Regions from separate parts of the Homo sapiens genome. Here regions 1, 2, 3, 4 and 6 are each reported to be linked to region 5. The links are microRNA targets in miRTarBase. Many come from high-throughput screens and were not tested one by one. Region 5 holds a microRNA gene; each other region holds the end of a gene's coding sequence.
The links. The annotated mature microRNA hsa-miR-3926 reads UGGCCAAAAAGCAGGCAGAGA and lies in region 5 at 1,299-1,319, opposite strand. An mRNA with a match to its seed (bases 2 to 7 or 8) in the 3' UTR can be bound and repressed. Matches are read on the target gene's strand: a 7mer-m8 pairs with bases 2 to 8, a 7mer-A1 pairs with bases 2 to 7 and ends in A, and an 8mer does both.

Region 1 (3,102 bases), not on the chromosome of region 5:
TGTCTATTTTTTCCTTATCCAGAGTGCTTAAAAACAAAACAAACAAAAACAAAAAAAAATTGGCTCTAGATGACTGTGGCAATTAAATAACTAAAATGAGTGATGAGAGCATAAGTTAATTAAGATTGAACACGACCCTCCTATTAATTCACTCCTTTGTTTTAAACATCAGAACTGATATTGTTGGGGCCAAAATTCTTAAAAAAGAGAAAACTTACGGAAAGAGAAGTAAAATTGTGGGTAAATGTGTGTGTGTGTGTGTATATGTGTGTATATATATGTATATATATATATACATATACATACATATATGAGTTGGAGATGGAAATTTGTTTTAAATATCTAACAGCTTATTGGCTGCACTTCCAAATCAGAGCAGAATAAAATAGAAAGGGAGAAATAAAATAAATTATACATAACTTACTAATCTGGGAACAGCTGACCATTATTATTATTATTACTATTATTATTATTATTTTATCATCATCATCATTACAACACTAGCAAAAAGAGGCAGTTCAAATGTAAATAAAGTCATCAAAAACAAACAAACAGAAAAACAAACAAAATGAAATCTCTGACATGCAGGATATGATCAGCTCCTCCAAGCAAAACCCCAGAGCAAGTCTTCTGAGAGAGAGAAAAATAAAAGGGATTCTTTTTTTATTTATATGTAAAAATCCAACTTTAGGGTGGTGTTTCGGGGGGTGAGATAGGAAAATGATGACTGGAGTGAAAACTATAGCACATCAAGCTACTAGTTGCAGTATTTACTATCTATCTGATACTTCAATACAAATAATGGCAATTGACTTGAAATGATTTTGCATTTATTTGTACAGGCCCTACAACTGCCTTGGCATTTGGCTGGCAAAATCTACATAAGCAGTCCCATCACATTCAGTTGTTGCTCTTTGCAAATACTCTGCTTGAACCAAAGTTGGACTTCAGTGGATTAATCTGACAGCAAGGGAAGAGCAGTGGCAAGGATCCCTGGGTGCAGCCAGGCTCCATTTTATTGGGCTGCAATGACTTTTAATTAAATCCTACTTTTTATGGCATGAACTACATATGGCCCACACTTCTGAAATGCTAAAGGCCTCCACCTCACTTCATGGAGGGGTGAAAAATACCTTATAAAATCATCAGTTTCATTTCCTGATCGGGAAAGGATGGAATGTTGAAGAAATAAGCTAATTCTATTTGTCTGAAAAAATGGCCAAATATATTCAATGAAAACAATGATTGTTTTGCTCAAAATATCAACAGGAAAAACAAAAATCACTAAGTAGCAAACGTTAATGGAACCAACTGACCAGGGAGAAAGGACATCTGGGAGCAGTTTGCTAGTAGCTTCCATGTTATACATGCACACCTCTATTACACAGGGCCACCTGATCCATCCAATAATAATCAGACATTTAAAAATATAATTTCTGAGCCCTATACTTGGTTAAGTTGTCATTTGAAGTGCAAAGTCAAGGTCAAGATTATTTCTAGACCAGTCACTTGGGAGGATGTGGGATTTCATCCCCAGATGTGGGTTTAACTCACAATGGTCCAACGTTATTCCTATTATTAGTACCATAATCACATACATACATACACACAAAAATCCAAGATCAGAAAATATTTTTCTCTAAATTTCTTATGTCTCTCTCTCTCTCTCTCTTTTCACCTGAGAACAGCACCTACAGTTTCCATTAAAAAAAAAAGTCAAATCTCACCAGCTGCTGGTATTTCAGGTTTTTCAAGGGATTGTCTAAGATTTAACACTGTCCTAACTTAAGAAGGAAAAGGAAAAAGTAAAGAGAAAAAATGAACTTGGTCAACACTTCAGTACAAATTTGGCACTTGCTCAAAGATGTAGTGTGGTGTGCAATAGATAAAGTCCTCTAAAGAAAATAATTGCTTATTTTGTGGTGGATAGCAAGGAAGTTAAAAACAGGCTCTTTTTCCCTCTTTCCCCTCATGCACAGACTTCCATCTTTAAAGTAGAGAGATGGAGAAGGTGGAGAGAAGTAAAGAGAAATTCATTTTTCTTTTTTTTCTGTCAGGTGCATTACAAAGAAAAAAAATGAAAGGAAAGAAAAAGAAAAGGAAAAAACCCAGAAACCCCAAAAAACAAAACAAAACTTTTTTCTTTTTAAAAATTGTAGCACAAAACAACAAAACACATTCACAAGCCACTTGTTGGCACTGTGTACCTGAGTGAGAATTTCTAGAACATTGTAGAACAAACAGCCATAAAGTTTATTTAAAAAAAAAAAAAAGTTGACGGGTAAGACTTCAGTGCTTGGATGTAGCAGCTGAATTACTGGCATTATTTTACCCATAGCTTATTTCAATCTCTTGTTGTTGATATTGTTGTTTGCTTGTTGTATTTGTTTTTTCTTTCCAAGCCTTTTGAGGCTGAGGTCTATTAGTCAGCTGATGTCCCAACTATTTAAGACTAACAGTTAAAGTAACAGTCAGTGTATGAGAAAGTTAATGTGCTTGGCCACTGGTAAGGATGAACCAGTTAGGGCTTCTTTAAGTCCTAAGGTCACAACAATCTTTTGACCCTTATCAGTTGGCTTGTCCTGCAATATGGTTTTCACTGTCACTCCCATAATCTACATCTGGATCATCCTCTTCCTCGTCGTACTCATCATAAATTTCTCCATTGATGTCCTCGGCCTGTATCTCTTCTTTGATATGTGGCTCCTCTCCTTTCACACCGTAAGTGCTCTGGATAACAGGCATCCCAGGCTCTGGGCTGCTAGACACGCTTGAGTGCTCCGAGGGCAGGTGAGGGGAGGGCATCCCAGCCATGGCGATGGCTCCAGGGTACACAACACCAGCAGTGGCAATGGGGATCTGTGCTTGTTGCCTGTCAAGAAAGGAATTTCCAAAAAGACATCGTGGGTAAGTGAATAGTTAGATGTGGACTTTACTACATAATTAATTTGCTCAGCAATGTCCAATTCTAAGGTACTAATTTTATCTAATTGCCTAACATTTTTCAAACTCCATCCTACTTGAACTTTAATACCTTGTTTTTCTTTTCTTTTCTTTTTTTTTTTTTTTTTTTGAGATGACGTAGTTTCGCTCCTGTTGCCT
Region 2 (3,098 bases), not on the chromosome of region 5:
GGGCTGGGTTCCCCACGTTCATTCAGAAGCCTTGTCCTGGGATCCCAGTCCGTGGGGAGGACACATCCTCCCCTGGGAGCTCTTTGTCCCTCCTCACGGCTGCTTCCCCACTGCCTCCCCAGACAAGGCCCCACTGCAGAAGGTTTCCCTGGCCCCAAACTCTCGCTACTACCTGAGCTGCCCCATGGAATCCCGCCACGCCACCTACTCATGGCGCCACAAGGAGAACGTGGAGCAGAGCTGCGAACCTGGTCACCAGAGCCCCAACTGCATCCTGTTCATCGAGAACCTCACGGCGCAGCAGTACGGCCACTACTTCTGCGAGGCCCAGGAGGGCTCCTACTTCCGCGAGGCTCAGCACTGGCAGCTGCTGCCCGAGGACGGCATCATGGCCGAGCACCTGCTGGGTCATGCCTGTGCCCTGGCCGCCTCCCTCTGGCTGGGGGTGCTGCCCACACTCACTCTTGGCTTGCTGGTCCACTAGGGCCTCCCGAGGCTGGGCATGCCTCAGGCTTCTGCAGCCCAGGGCACTAGAACGTCTCACACTCAGAGCCGGCTGGCCCGGGAGCTCCTTGCCTGCCACTTCTTCCAGGGGACAGAATAACCCAGTGGAGGATGCCAGGCCTGGAGACGTCCAGCCGCAGGCGGCTGCTGGGCCCCAGGTGGCGCACGGATGGTGAGGGGCTGAGAATGAGGGCACCGACTGTGAAGCTGGGGCATCGATGACCCAAGACTTTATCTTCTGGAAAATATTTTTCAGACTCCTCAAACTTGACTAAATGCAGCGATGCTCCCAGCCCAAGAGCCCATGGGTCGGGGAGTGGGTTTGGATAGGAGAGCTGGGACTCCATCTCGACCCTGGGGCTGAGGCCTGAGTCCTTCTGGACTCTTGGTACCCACATTGCCTCCTTCCCCTCCCTCTCTCATGGCTGGGTGGCTGGTGTTCCTGAAGACCCAGGGCTACCCTCTGTCCAGCCCTGTCCTCTGCAGCTCCCTCTCTGGTCCTGGGTCCCACAGGACAGCCGCCTTGCATGTTTATTGAAGGATGTTTGCTTTCCGGACGGAAGGACGGAAAAAGCTCTATTTTTATGTTAGGCTTATTTCATGTATAGCTACTTCCGACTGCATCTGTATGAAAATACCAAAACTACATGCGGGGGGGTGGGTGGGAAAGGGAGGGGCTGGGAAGGGATGGGTTGGGGAGCGGGGGTGATCCCAGTCTGAGGCTCCCGGGGATGAGATAAGAGTCTGGAGACGGGCATGGGTTCTTGGAGAGTGGCATGAGCTGGCTCTGCCCTGGGAGCCCGGTCTGAGGGGGACGTTGTTGGAGCCCCTAGTGTTGGGGGTGGTTATGGGAGGGGGTGGGGTGAGGGAAACGGGAGAATGAAGGAGAAAACTGAGCCCTAGTTTCACCGTGTTCATTTGGAAGGACGAGCCGGGTCCTCAGGGGGAGGTTCCAGGACTCTGCCCTTGGCGTTGAGGGTTGGGGGGCGGGGGGCCTCCTCCCTTCCTCTCAGCCCCCTTCCCCAGGGGCTGTGCTTCCATGCTCCTAGCCTCCCACCTTCGCTCAGGACATGTTATAACTTAGGCTAAACTGTGAAAATTCCGGTGGGGATGGCCTGGGCCGAGCTCTCCAGGCAGGCGGCCCTGCCCCCAGCCCTGTCCATCCATTTCAGGGGGGAGCTGGGCCCTTCTCCGGCTGTGTCTGGCCACCCAGGGCAGTGGCTGGGGCCAGTGGCCTTCCAGCTTTGGCCCCTGCACCTCTTCTCAATGCACTTTAATAATGTAACATATTACTAATAAACAAGCTATTTATTTACCTGCGCCTGTTCCTTGCCTGCAAAGCTGTCCTGGTCAGGGGGTGTTGGTGGGGGCTCCTGTTTATTACTCGCCACCCCCTGGCTGCGTGAGCATCACATGCATTCTTTCATGTCCTGGTTAGGGCCCAGGAGCCAGCTCAGCAGGGCTGTAGCTAGTGAGAGGCAGGAATGGGGACCTGAACCCACGACTCCTCAGCAGCGTGCTGCTTGCTCGAGCCTTGACCCCAGAGCCCCAATAGCACGTGCACCCCTTTTCCCCATTCCCAGCCTTCACCTCCCACCACTTCCCCCTGGAAGGCCTGGCCTGGGTCATGCTAGAAACAGCCTCAGGACTCCCTGCCTTCAAGGGGCAGTTCTGGAGGGCAAGCTGATCAAATGCGACCCTGTGGGATGCTGTGGCCTTGAGTGTGTGTGCAGGAGGCTGGTGCCGGCTGAAGAGATGTGGGAATGGGATTTGCTCCAGGCAGGGTAGGGGTCTGGGTGAGGGTTGGAGAGTAGGGAGGGACCTGTGGGGAGGGTTTATGAGTGATGAGGTAGGATTTGAGTTGTAGAAACTCAGGACTCCCTCCAAGATCAAGTAAATAGGTTTTAGAACACAGAAGTTTATGCAGGAAGGAGCCTCTGAGGCTGGGGTGGAAGGATGCAGGGGAGTTAGTTAGGAGGCTGTCTGGTGGCGGGTGGAGGTCAGGATGAGAGCAGTGGTCCTGGGATGAAGGGCAGGGACAGTAGGGAGCACTGCAGATAGAAGTCCAGATAGAAGCCCAGAGGCCTCCCCTCCCCCTTGTTCCCTTCTCTGTCCCCTGTCCCTGGAGGCAAGGACCTAGGCCTTTGGGGTCTGCTAGGCGTTTTTCCTGAGCAGTGACTGCTGGAGGGGTCCATGGCAGACTTGGGGCAGTTTACTTCTCTGTCCGAGCCCAGCTTCTGGTTGGCTCTGGCAAACCCCACAGGACTGGAATTGCCCCCACCCATAGTGCTCCCTCCCACTTCAGTTTGCTCTGCACTCTCATAGCCAGCCCATTCCTGAGGATTCTCCCCATCCTTTTCTCCCCCAACACTCGGCATGCCCTGGGGGACCAAGGTCTCAGCAGGTACATGGGACCAGGGGTCTTTGGGAGTTTGGGGGACCCAGAAGAGCCCTGGGCAGCTGGGGCAGAGACCTGGGGCTGCTGCCACCATTTTTGGCGTTTGTGGTCCTGGGCAGACCCTCGCCTTTCCCGAGCCTCATTTCTCTCCTGTGTAAAAGGCAGGGCTGGACCTGGGCTTCTGTGGACCCTTTCC
Region 3 (3,102 bases), not on the chromosome of region 5:
AGGATGGTCTCCATCTCCTGACCTCGTGATCCGCCCGTCTCGGCCTCCCAAAGTGCTGGGATTACAGGCGTGAGCCACCGCGCCCGGTCCATTCTCACCTTTTCTAAGTATATTTAAACTTCCAATTTTCCTTCCCAGGGCCATGCTTTCCCCTTGATTTCTTTGATTCCCTAGAATTTTAACTTGAATTGTGCTCAAGCCAGGTTATTTACGTCATCTAGGCTATCTTAGCAAAGAGCTTTAGAGAAGCTGGATGATCTGAGGCAGAAGTTTGCTCACAGGTTTCTCCTTTTTTTCTGCTAGGCTTGTGGAATATACCCGTGCTGATGGCACAGTTGGCCGAAGAGTGAAGCCCTACATCATTGACCTTGGCTCAGGCAATGGAACCTTCTTAAACAACAAACGTATTGAGCCACAGAGATACTATGAACTAAAAGAAAAGGATGTACTCAAATTTGGATTCAGTAGCAGAGAATACGTCTTGCTCCATGAGTCGTCGGACACTTCTGAAATAGACAGGAAAGATGACGAGGATGAGGAGGAGGAGGAAGAAGTGTCTGACAGCTAGCAAACTAAGAACCCAAACTATTGATACACGGTTTCCTTCTTGGAAGTCTTTGATTGACTCAGAGAGCACTATGGTGGTGGGTCCAGCACTATGGTGCTCTCTGTAATGCCTCTTACTGCCTTAAGTCTTTCCTCTGTTGCTGACCAGATTGTGTTACCATTTGAATACACTGACTAATGTTTGTTAAACTTTTTCTGTGGCACCTTGGCCACATGCCTGCAGGCATTTGTTTTCAGAACAGTCTCACCAATTACAACACACCGTGTTTTAGTAGAAGTGTTGTGGTTTTAGTTGGTGCTTTCAGAACTGCTGCCTAGGAAACTATAAACCCTTGGTTAAGGGGAAATCATGGCTTGTTCTCTTTGTACAGTTACTTTATTTATATAGGTGTTAAGCTTTGTGGACCAGGTGTTTTTCTTTTGGGGCGAACCCCTGAGCAGAGAATCTTACTAGGCTTTGGTTATCACCAAAACAACCTCCAGTATATACCAAAGCTTTGACTTGTTTGAGCTCTTGAGCTTAGAAGTTGATTTTGCACTTATTTTTTTGGGGGGTGGGAATGTACTGCAGTCAGTAAACATTATTGACTGTTTAACTTAAACAGATGCTTTATGGCACCTGCTCAAGCCCGTGACTGTACAGAAGGATCCTGGTTGCTACCAGTGGGTGCTGATTCAGCATCACAAGTGACTGAAATTGGCTGTGGATCTGTTCTTTGTGAAAGAATTCCTGATTTCTCCATGGAGCATGTACACAACAATTTTGATCATATTAACTGTACTTCAGTTTTGCATTTTTATTCAAATGTTATCTCTTTTTTTCTTTGAGAAATAAACTGTCACTGATGTGACAGCGTTCTTTCTTTATTCTAATAACATGTATAGATCTAAAGCAGGTTGTGTTGTTTACATGTTTCTACACATTTCATCCTTTAAAAAGTTGTTGAGAGAGGTTGTATTTACCTTCCCAAGGTTGGAAAGCAGGGGAATTTCCCAGTGTCCTAGTTTTCCACCAGAGGAATATGTGTAAGTAGCAAAGTATTTGCTGCTTACATATAGTGTGTATGTATGTATATATGTAAATTGTGTGTTAAAGAGCTGATACTGATTTTCATATGACAATGTTAGGCAAAGGCCTCCCTGCATTTGAAGAGCAGGTTTTCATTTATATGTATTTTTGGGATAAAAAAATAAAATTTGTAAATATAGCCCCATTTCAAAGAGTAATGCTTTCCTAGCGTAGAGGACCTTGTGTTCATAGGTCTGTTTGCTGCTAATGGAGCCTTCTGTCAGTACTTTTGAGATAAAAGTAGGTAGCTGTTTTAGAGTGTTGTGGGGCAGGTTATATCGTTGGCCTCCAAGTCAGTGGAATAGCAGATGGTGACATGGAGGTGGGTTGTGGGGAAAGGTGGTGAAGCAGCTCAATCAGTGTTACTACTAATTGTTCCTCTTGGGTTGAGACTTAGGATACTATTAAATTTGATTGTTTTCCATTGTTTTTATACCCATGTGTGCTCAGGGCTAAAGATTGGCTAGTGGGAGGGGCAGCTGACTAATGTTCATTCAGAAGAAGTTAAAAGATCCTTTGAAAAGTGAACACTTAATAAGGTCATTAGATGAAACGTAAGTTGGGCCGGGCATGGGCACAGTGGCTCATGCCTGTAATCCCAACACTTTCGGAGGCTGAGGTGGGCAGATCATCTGAGGTCAGGAGTTCAAGACCAACCTGGCCAACATGGTGAAACCCCATCTCTACTAAAAATACAAAAATTAGCTGGGCGTGGTGGCACATGCCTGTTTTAATCCCAGCTACTCGGGAGGCTGAGGCAGGAGAATCGCTTGAACCCGGGAGGTGGAGGTTGCAGCGAGCTGAGATTGTGCCACTGCACTCCAGCCTGGGTGACAGCGAGACTCTGTCTCAGAAAAAAAAAAAAAAGGTAAGTTGAAGAATGTGTTCTACATTGGCCACTGTAACTGCTATTTTCTTCATTTTGGTATGTGCCATAGATCATATATATGTGCTTGTCTGAAAAGTAGGTTTGTTTGGATGAACTTTTCTCTTGATCCAGACTGACGGTTTTCTCTTGAGGGTTTAAGCACTAATCTGGTATCTTACTCTAGGATCTCCTTGTTCAGTCTGTGCTGCAGTAGCACTACTTTGTGGTAGCCTTGAGTTTTGCTACAAACTTCATCCTGGTGGGCACTGTGATAGATGACCACTTTGCCTACATTTTTCAGTAAGAAGTCCTAATTGTTTAGTCAGTTTTTATTTTAGTAGAGGAATAACGTCCTGGATTAAGAAATTCTTTATGCCACATATCTGAGAAGGTGGGTTTTTTTGTTGGTTTGTTTGTTTTGAGATGGCGTCTCACTCTGTCGCCCAGGCTGGAGTGCAGTGGCACCATCTTGGCTCACTGCAACCTCCGCCTCCCAGTTTCAAGCGATTCTCCTGCCTCAGCCTCCCAAGTAGCTGGGACTACAGGCACCTGTCACCAAGCCTGGCTAATTTATATATATAATTTTTATTTTTTATTT
Region 4 (3,102 bases), not on the chromosome of region 5:
ACACAGGCTGGAGTGCAGTGGTGCCATCTCGGCTCACTGCAACCTCTGCCGCCAGGGTTCAGGCAATTCTCCTGCCTCAGCCTCCCAAGTAGCTGGGATTTAAAAAAAAAAAAAAAAGAAAGAAAGAAAGAAAGAAAGAAAGAAAAGCTGAGTAGCTGTCTAAAAAAAAAAAAAAAGAAAGAAAAATAAAAAAGATTTTCTCAGCCCCAAAGCCTGAGGCTCACCCCTAGGACAGGGCACCCTGTTAACACTGGCAGGAAAACGACACCATTTATTCCGACGTCTGCGTCTGTAGTTTTATTCCGTATCTGGCTGGGGGAGGGTGGTCTCCGAGGTGGATGGAGTGAGGGTGGAGGGGACAGAGATGGTCCCTGCTCCCACCTCCCCGAGCCCACCTGGGAAGCTGCGTGGCCGGGCTGCTGGAGACATCCCGAGCCCTGGGGGAGACAGAGGTGTGGGTGTTTGGGCTTCATCTTCCAGGTACAAGGAGATACATTTCATCAAGCAGTTCCTGATTTCATGGAGTTCTTTGAGGGCTCGGCTGGGAGGTCCCTCTCCGGGGGGCTCCAAGTGCCGGACCTGGTGGTTTCTGGAAGGATCAAGGACAAGTCCTGGGAGTTTCAGGCTTCGGCAGTAACAGTGTGTTAATTGCACTTGTTCGATTTTCTGGCAGAAGCCAGGAGAGACGGGGACAGCGTGCTTCTCTTCGGTGACCATCCCAGGCGCCCAGAGGTGACCAGACTTCTGTGTGGTCTGGGACAGTGCAGGGCTCAGGCAGGAAGGACCACTGTGGTGAAAGGCCACTGACAATTCTGGTGAGGAGTAGGGTGGCAGGGGTTCAGCCAGGGAGAGGAGGTGGCTGCCTTTTCTCAGGGCCCTGCTCTCACCTTCCAAAGGTCTAGGGTACACAGAACTCATGGATTTTGGTCTCGCAGCCCCAGGGGCCACACAGAAAAAGGGGTTCAACTGGAAGTTTGCAGCATCTGGGAAAGGCCAATTCTGGCAGAACTGGAAGATTCCAGACCAGGGGAGAGGCGTCCAGGGAGAGAAGAGTCCTGCTTGGGTTGATCATAAGCAAAGTGGACATCGTTCCGAAGAGGCAGAGAGCTCACTATGTTATCGATAAAAAAATTCTTGGCCGGGCACAGTGGCTCACGCCTGTAATCCCAGCACTTTGGGAGGCTGAGGCTGGTGGATCACAAGGTCAGGAGATCAAGACCATCCTGGCTAACACGGTGAAACCCTGTCTCTACTAAAATACAAAAAAATTAGCCGGGTGTGACGGTGGGTGCCTGTAGTCCCAGCTGCTGGGGAGGCTGAGGCAGGAGAATGGCGTGAATCTGGGAGGCGGAGCTTGCAGTGAGCCGAGATCCCACCACTGCACTCCAGCCTGGTTAGGCCGGGTGCAGTAGCTCATGCCTGTAATCCCAGCACTTTTGGAGGCCAAGGTAGGCGGATCACCTGAAGTCAGGAGTTTGAGACCAGCCTGGCCAACATGGTGAAATCTTGTCTCTACTAAAACTACAATAATTTCCTGGGCGTGGTGGCGCACACCTGTAATCCCAGCTACTTGGGAGGCTGAAGCAGGAGAATCACTTGAACCCAGGAGGTGGAGGATGCAGTGAGCCGAGATTGTGCCACTGGACTCCAGTCTGGGCGACAGTGGGAGACTCCGTTCAAAAAAAATAAAAATCTCAAGATGGTTGTAAATGTGACTATAAAAATCAAACCCTTTATGATACACAAAGGGGCCCTTAGGAAATGAGTCAGAAGCCGGGGTGCAGGACGTGGGGTCCCAGGAGTCCAGGAAGCCCTGGATACAGTCAGCTGAATGTTTCGGAAGAACGGAAGAAGCAGAGTGCATTGAGGAAGAGAGAGGGCTGGGTGCGGTGGCTCACCCCTGTGATTCCAGCACTTTGGGAGGCCGAGGATGGAGGATCACTGGAGGCCAGGAGTTCAGCGAGACCCCTGTCTCTAGTATGACCAAAAAAAAAAAAATCTGTAGAAAAATGGAAGAGATTGGGGAGGGAGGAAAGAGGCTGCCTGGGTCCAGGTTGTGCCTCTGTGTGAAGAGACACCAGCGGCTGCCAGTGGGGAGTGCGGAGTAAAGGCCTGCGGGAGGAGATGTCCGCTCTCAGGGGCTCGGAAGCCCCTCAGCCTCTTGCCTCCCCAACGGGAGACATGTAGGAGGCCGAGCAAGCTGGGTGCCCTTGAGAGACAGGCCCAGGCAGGGCTGTGGCCACAGCAGCCCTGGGGGCTCCCCAGCGAGGTGGAGGCAGAAGTTCCAGGAGCCTGGGAGCCACCCAGGGCAAGGAGTGACCCTGGAAGCCATCCAGCCTCCTGGAAAGTGGAAGTGGTTTAAAAACACAGTGGGCTTTTCCGGTTGCTAGTAACACATAGAATTACAGAGTTCACGTTTTAGTCCCAGACGGGAGACTGAGGCTCGAGACTGAGGAAGGCATCTGCCGTCCGGGGTTGGAGCTCCTGAGGACCAACACCTGCTCAGCGGCTCGGCCCCTGGTCTCCCTGAGATGCTCAGGCCGGAGAGAAGCGGGATGATGGTTCCAGAGCGTCCTCCTCCAAGTCTCCGAGGCCCCAGCGGCGGTTCGGGCACCGGGAGACCCGCGGGGCTCTCAGTGGCACATCCGGGCGGTCATTTCTTTCTGTAAAGAGCAAGCAAGACATCAGCTCCCACCAGCCACTCCTAAAAGGGGTGATGCGAACAGCAGACACACGGAGACGCACAGGCAGAGAAACGGCAGCTGGGGGCTTCCCTGAACACCCAAACAACAAAAACCACACAGGCAATGGCACACCTGAGACCAGGGGCAGCAGGCTACCCCATGAGGCCAGAGAGTCAGCATTTTCAGATCTGTGGGCCAGACGGTCCCTGTCATGATGGCTCAACTCTGTCTTGTACCTCAAAAGCCACCTCAGACGATGGTAACCTCACAAGTGTACCTCGCTGCCAATAAAACTGTATTTACAGCCAGGCTTGGTGGCTCACGCCTGTAATCCCAGCACTTTGGGAGGCAGAGGTAGGCAGATCACCTGAGGTCAGGAGTTCAAGACCAGCCTGGATAACACGGTGAAATCCTGTCT
Region 5 (3,102 bases):
ATCTAAGTTTTGAAAGGTTTACATTTCTGCCCTGTTTTATTGAATGTATTAGTAGTTGAAGCCGATGGAATTAGTAGATTGAAATTTGATGTAAATGTAAACACATCAAATCTTATAAGAATTGTTTTATATATTAAGATTGTTCTTGTGCCTAAGATAACCTTAATGATAAAATAGAGTTGAATGCTGTGTGAAGACCCTGGGGCAGACATAGAAAGCACTGCCAGTGTACATGTTGGTGATATCTTAACAGGGTAGGGTTTTTGTGATGTCTTTCTAGAATAGGGTTAATGTGGCCCTTTTGATGTTTGCAATACCCAGTTTACCTACTGCAGTTAGTTTAGGAACCGGAAAAGTGACTTATGATGCTACAAATACCAAATTGAAGGCAATTTCTTTTGGAAAGGCATTATAAAAACATAGATCTTATCCCTTCTCTTATTCATTGATCTGTTTAGGCCCTTCATTTCGTCAGCATTTATTGGATATTGGCATTAGGTATTTTCACAAACATTAACTCATAGAATTTTCACAACTCTATGAAATAGTAGATGAGGAAAGTACAATTCAGAGGTGTTAATTAATTTGCCTGAGAGCCTATAGATAATGTAACAAAAATGATTAAAGCAAACTGTCTGACTCAGACTTTGAGCTTTATCACTATGCCATTTGGCTCTCTGTTGATAAACCTGATTAGTCTGACGTTGGCAGTCCTATCTTATTATAAAAATGCTATGGGGGTACTTTGTCTTGTGCAGTTGGCCGAAAGTATTGTGTGAGTTGAAATTTTGAGTTGATTGATAGAATCTGTGCCTTAGGCATACTTGGTTAATGGAATCACTTGCTAAAGGTTCTTCTTTGTAAAGTTAATAACCATATTTCAGTTTTGTGTAAATTTATGTCTTCACTTATTGGATTTGATGACAAAATCACTTGAGTATATGGCTAAATTACATGACTATATGTATTAATACTTACAAACATGTAGGCAATAGAATCACATTCTAAAAGTATTACAGATATGATATTTATAAACGAGTCCTCTTTGGTCCTCGGAATGTCTAGTAATCTTTTCTCATCATGTCTTCATCTATATAATGATTTTCTTGTCCATTCTGGAAAACCTTCTCAAATTTGTTTTATATGGCAAATTTTCCTCTTCTTATAATAATTCTGTTTTCTGTGACTTCTAATGAAATTTTAAGTTCTGTTAAAATTATCACAGTAAAGTTCCTTGACTTTAAAAGCTTGCTTTTAAAATGGAGCTGGCCAAAAAGCAGGCAGAGACTTTAAAAGCGTCTCTGCCTGCTTTTTGGCCAGCTCCGTTTTTCATCACTGACGCTTATAATTGTTATCATTCCTTGTTTACCAGAGCCTGTCATTTGTTTTCTTGAATTTTGTGAGGGTGCAGAGCAGATGCTTTAAAAAAAAAAAAAAAAAAGATTTAACAAGGCATAAGTTTGTTTCTTGCTCCTATCAATGTATGTTAGCAGGGGCCTGAATCATGTATAGTCATTTCAGGACCAAAATTCTTCAATTGTGTGGCTCCTCTACCTTTTTTAAAAGTTTATTTTTATTGTGGTAAAATATACATAGAATTTACCATTTTAACCATCTTTGAGTGCACACAGTGGCATTAAGTACATTCACATTGTTATGCAAAAAACAGATGCTCTTTAAACTTTAGTTTTCATTTCAAATCTTTCAAAAGTAAAAAGTTTGCTTTTTTGTCTCTGGTGTGCTGTAGTCTTATTTTTATATTTCGAAATGTTTTCAGAGTCCCTTTGTTGTTTTTAAATGAGTCATCCTTGAAGTATGAAAGGCTGAGTCAGGCCTGGTATTTTTTCAGATGAGTTTGTGCATATGAGACAGAGCACGACCTGGCAAGTAGCAAGTGGGATGTAAGTGTGCATTAAAGAAATCAGTATAAGATGGATGAGTTAAACTTAGATCTTCCCACCTGTGTTCTCTGAGACTACTCTTCTATCTCAGGCTGGAAGCCTGATGCAATTAATTTTACATTTGCAGTTTGGTGACCCAGTAGTCTAAAGAATACACTGAGGGGTTCCAGAGGTAGCCATAGCCTTGGGCCTTGCCAGCAGAAGCTCATCATTGTGTAATTGACTCTCTGACATACTGGCTTTATATGCTAACTTATTTGTTGTAGCTTTTTGTTTGTTTTTGTGTTTTGACCCAGTTCCCTAGTAAAAGATGTAACTGTGCCTGGACTCCTCCTGTTACTACTTTCTGTCATGTCATCTACACCCTAACTACTTATCTTTTCTTTTTTTGTAGCAACTATCATCCACTTTTTTGTTCCACTGCTTTCAAAAACCATTGATCCATAAAGACAAATGGAATTCCAAATTAGACCTCTGAACCAGAACTCACTCTCAATCTTACTCTTCCCACTTGAGGGCTGTTGTAGGGTTCTGCAATATTGCACTGCTAAGTCAGCAAGGTTAGGCATAGGTCAGGCCTTGTTGTCTTTCTTTAGTCTGGTCAGCCCTATATGAGACAGAAATGTGTATTAAAGCATAGGAATAATACTCTCTGGGACGTCAGCACTGAAACAGGTATTGCCCTGTTCTTCTGATCCCTTTTTCCATTTGTGTCGGTTGGCATATGGCATATGGACGGGGGATTAGACACAGAAGTCTTACTGACTATTGTATTTCTAGGTTGAGAATGAAGATGAGATTAAGAATCTCAGAGAGCTTCATGATTTGGTTTACTCTCAAGCCTGCAGCTGGTTTCAGAATTTAAGAGACAGATTTCGAAGCCAAATTCTTCAGCATTTCGGATCAATGCCCGAGAGGGAGGAAAACCTTCAGGTATGGTGGCTTTTCTGTTCTTCCAAAAGTCACTTTTTTATAAACCCAAATTTGCACACTTCTACATTTGTTTTCTCATTGTCCTTTCTGCACTACTTTTTCTTTGACTGTCCCCTCCCCCGCACCAGCCCCACCTCATCTTTGCAATCATGAGTTCTCTAGAGCAGTGGTCTCCACTACATTCCGTACAGATAGAGGCTGGAAATACGTGTCAGCTGAGATGCCTGTAGGAGAGAGTGCCAGAAAGGGAGCAAGTCCTTAAGAGGAT
Region 6 (3,102 bases), not on the chromosome of region 5:
TCACCTGTGGCTCCAGTCCTGTTTTGGTTTTCCACAGATCACAAAGGCATCAAGGAAGAGGCTCACGGTAAGCCTGGCCTACTCGGAGAGCCACCAGATCCGCGTGTCCCAGCAGGACTTCCGGCTCTTCCGCACCCTCTTCCTCCTCATGGTCTCCTTCTTCATCATGTGGAGCCCCATCATCATCACCATCCTCCTCATCCTGATCCAGAACTTCAAGCAAGACCTGGTCATCTGGCCGTCCCTCTTCTTCTGGGTGGTGGCCTTCACATTTGCTAATTCAGCCCTAAACCCCATCCTCTACAACATGACACTGTGCAGGAATGAGTGGAAGAAAATTTTTTGCTGCTTCTGGTTCCCAGAAAAGGGAGCCATTTTAACAGACACATCTGTCAAAAGAAATGACTTGTCGATTATTTCTGGCTAATTTTTCTTTATAGCCGAGTTTCTCACACCTGGCGAGCTGTGGCATGCTTTTAAACAGAGTTCATTTCCAGTACCCTCCATCAGTGCACCCTGCTTTAAGAAAATGAACCTATGCAAATAGACATCCACAGCGTCGGTAAATTAAGGGGTGATCACCAAGTTTCATAATATTTTCCCTTTATAAAAGGATTTGTTGGCCAGGTGCAGTGGTTCATGCCTGTAATCCCAGCAGTTTGGGAGGCTGAGGTGGGTGGATCACCTGAGGTCAGGAGTTCGAGACCAACCTGACCAACATGGTGAGACCCCCGTCTCTACTAAAAATAAAAAAAAAAATTAGCTGGGAGTGGTGGTGGGCACCTGTAATCCTAGCTACTTGGGAGGCTGAACCAGGAGAATCTCTTGAACCTGGGAGGCAGAGGTTGCAGTGAGCCGAGATCGTGCCATTGCACTCCAACCAGGGCAACAAGAGTGAAACTCCATCTTAAAAAAAAAAAAAAAAAGATTTGTTATGGGTTCCTTTTAAATGTGAACTTTTTTAGTGTGTTTGTAATATGATCAAATTTAATAAATATTTATTTATGACTGTTCAGCAATCACATCTCCTACATATAAAGCCACACCATAGTGGTTTCTGAAGTGAGTCTTAGAACCGATTCAGGACGCAGATTTCTCCTCTGAAGGGTCACAGCCACCCTGTGCCCTACCTTGGACTCGCAAGGGTTTAGGATCATTCGTTGATGTCAAGAGCAATTGAAGAATTTCTAAGGAACAGTTAAAGATGACTTACTTTTTTTTTTTTTTCATTTATAAAAATGCTATGGACCCTTTTAAGAGAATCGGCATCATGAAATGAGAGAGAAAGTAGGATGGCTCTGAAATGTTTGAGAGTGAGTTCAGGAGTGGTTTACTCCTGACGCATCCAGCAGAGATGCCTCTTAAGCACCAGCCATGGCAGACAGTGTCCTTTGTGCTAGGAATACAGTGGTGAACCAGACAGCCATGGCCCTCTCTCAGGGAACTTACCTTCGAGTCAGGGGCAGAAAAACTAAATAAAAGTCAATAAACTATATCTATATACAGATACCTATATATTTGAGATGAGGGTCTTGCTCCAATGCCCAGGCTGGAGTGCAACGGCACAATCACGGCTCCCTGAAGCCTCAAATGCCTTGGCTCAAGCAATCCTCCCGCCTCAGCCTCCCAAGTAGCTGGGATTACAGGCGTGAGCCGCCACGCCTGGCTACAAGTCAATAAATAGTATAGCATCACAGAGCGAATAAGCACTGTGAAGAAAATGGGACGGGGGCTATGGTAGTGATGGGAATTTAGATCAGATGGGGAGGGGCCTAAGGAGACCTTTCTGAGGAGTGACAAATTGGATCAAAAGGTAAGCGACAAGAAAGGGCCACCTGTGTGAATGGGGGAAGGGACACAGAAGAGATGTTAGTGCAAGGAGGCTGACACGCTTGAAGGGAGAGTGGCGTAAGCCGACTATTGATGGAGCCTCCTCTGCACTAGGCACTGCCTTTAATGCTGAGATGAGGGGTACCCGGCTGGGGCCTGTCAGTTGAGGCCAGAGAAATTGCAGGGTTAGATCACATAGGGCCTAGGAGTTTATTCTGTTCTCCAAGCCCCTGGAGGTTGGCAACTGGAGGCTGACGTGACCTGATGAATGTGTGCAAAGATTACCCTGGCTGCTGGGCAGGGAATAGACTCTGAGGAGCATGAGTGAAAATGGAGACCAGTTGGGCAGCTGCTGAAGTGTGACATGGGGATGGGACCTTGGAGGTGAGTGGCATTAGGGAGGGATTGTGAGAAATGACTTGTAAATATACCTTGGGAAGGTAAAACAAAGATGATTTATTGATGGGAAGGATGGAATTGATAGAATGTGAGGGAAAGGGAGAACTCAAGGGGAATACTCTGATTTTTTAGCCTGTCATTGGTTGGATGGTGAAGCAGGCAACAAAAATGGGGGGGCCTGGGCAAAGATTAGGGGGGGGGGAGCCAAGAGTTTCATTTGGAGCTCATCAGTTTGAAATCTCAGTGAGACTTCCAAATTGAATAGGCAGTTGGATGCAGAGATGTGGAGCTTGGGCCTGGAGATGCACATTGTTTGGAGATATAAATGGTGTTTATAGACCTATGGTTTTATAATACATCCCTTGGAGAGATAGAGAGAAACCAGAGCCAAAGACCGAACCCAGGGTCACTCCACCACTTGGAGGCTGGGCCAGTGGCTGGAATGCACAGCAGCACGGGGCCTGGTGTATAGTAGGTGTTCAACAAATCTTTGTTGCTGAGGAAATCAGCACCAGCAGTAGTGACTGCTTATGCAGTTTCTGGAGCAGCTTGCTTCTGAAGTCAGATTCATGGATATCACAAGCTCGAAGACAAACGAACAGAGATGTTTTGCTCACTTTAGTTAATAGATTTGATCAATTAAACCTGTTTTTGGAAGTGATGTGTGGCTATCTTATTGAAGCGGCATTGCTGTCTGGGGTAAATAACCGGGGTTTGTCATCTTGCGCCAAGAGGATTAAGGACACGGACATATGTGGGTGGGTTAAGGAACAGAATGTTTAATAGGCAGAAGAAAGGAGAGAGGAGAGCAGCTCTCTCTCTCGTGAGACAGAGGCATCTGAAAAGGGAAAAGTGGTGGACCACAGCGTATTT

Region 1: miRTarBase lists SOX5 as a target of hsa-miR-3926. Seed matches in the 3' UTR shown: 8mer at 1,217-1,224 and 7mer-m8 at 188-194.
Region 2: the mRNA of SEMA7A is a reported target of hsa-miR-3926. Seed matches in the 3' UTR shown: 7mer-m8 at 1,748-1,754.
Region 3: the mRNA of SNIP1 is a reported target of hsa-miR-3926. Seed matches in the 3' UTR shown: 7mer-A1 at 773-779 and 7mer-A1 at 2,529-2,535.
Region 4: the mRNA of MOB3A is a reported target of hsa-miR-3926. Seed matches in the 3' UTR shown: 7mer-A1 at 1,488-1,494.
Region 6: miRTarBase lists FFAR4 as a target of hsa-miR-3926. Seed matches in the 3' UTR shown: 7mer-A1 at 620-626.

What each region holds. Positions count from the first base shown.
Region 1 is chr12:23,531,651-23,534,752 of GRCh38, forward strand. SOX5 (SRY-box transcription factor 5) reads right to left here. Exons shown (of 15, transcript NM_006940.6): 15 at 1-2,872. The coding sequence ends at 2,569. Among named protein-coding and RNA genes, the nearest start is that of SOX5, 420 kb to the right of the region's middle.
Region 2 is chr15:74,408,010-74,411,107 of GRCh38, reverse strand. SEMA7A (semaphorin 7A (JohnMiltonHagen blood group)) reads left to right here. Exons shown (of 14, transcript NM_003612.5): 14 at 123-1,819. The coding sequence ends at 484. Among named protein-coding and RNA genes, the nearest start is that of MIR6881, 1.9 kb to the left of the region's middle. RefSeq lists enhancers at 1,465-1,724, 1,368-1,868.
Region 3 is chr1:37,535,214-37,538,315 of GRCh38, reverse strand. It overlaps SNIP1 (Smad nuclear interacting protein 1), which reads left to right. Exons shown (of 4, transcript NM_024700.4): 4 at 304-3,102. The coding sequence ends at 568. The region is part of intron 2 of LOC105378649 (a long non-coding RNA gene); the gene reads right to left. Among named protein-coding and RNA genes, the nearest start is that of SNIP1, 18 kb to the left of the region's middle.
Region 4 is chr19:2,070,762-2,073,863 of GRCh38, forward strand. It overlaps MOB3A (MOB kinase activator 3A), which reads right to left. Exons shown (of 5, transcript NM_130807.3): 5 at 275-2,663. The coding sequence ends at 2,634. Among named protein-coding and RNA genes, the nearest start is that of MKNK2, 21 kb to the left of the region's middle. RefSeq lists enhancers at 984-1,033, 1,064-1,113.
Region 5 is chr8:12,725,459-12,728,560 of GRCh38, reverse strand. It overlaps MIR3926-2 (microRNA 3926-2), which reads right to left and starts at 1,324; the gene lies at 1,262-1,324. LONRF1 (LON peptidase N-terminal domain and ring finger 1) reads left to right here. Exons shown (of 12, transcript NM_152271.5): 11 at 2,682-2,834. MIR3926-1 (microRNA 3926-1) reads left to right here and starts at 1,257; the gene lies at 1,257-1,329. RefSeq lists an enhancer at 1,710-1,759.
Region 6 is chr10:93,587,183-93,590,284 of GRCh38, forward strand. It overlaps FFAR4 (free fatty acid receptor 4), which reads left to right. Exons shown (of 3, transcript NM_001195755.2): 3 at 38-2,890. The coding sequence ends at 427. Among named protein-coding and RNA genes, the nearest start is that of RBP4, 13 kb to the right of the region's middle.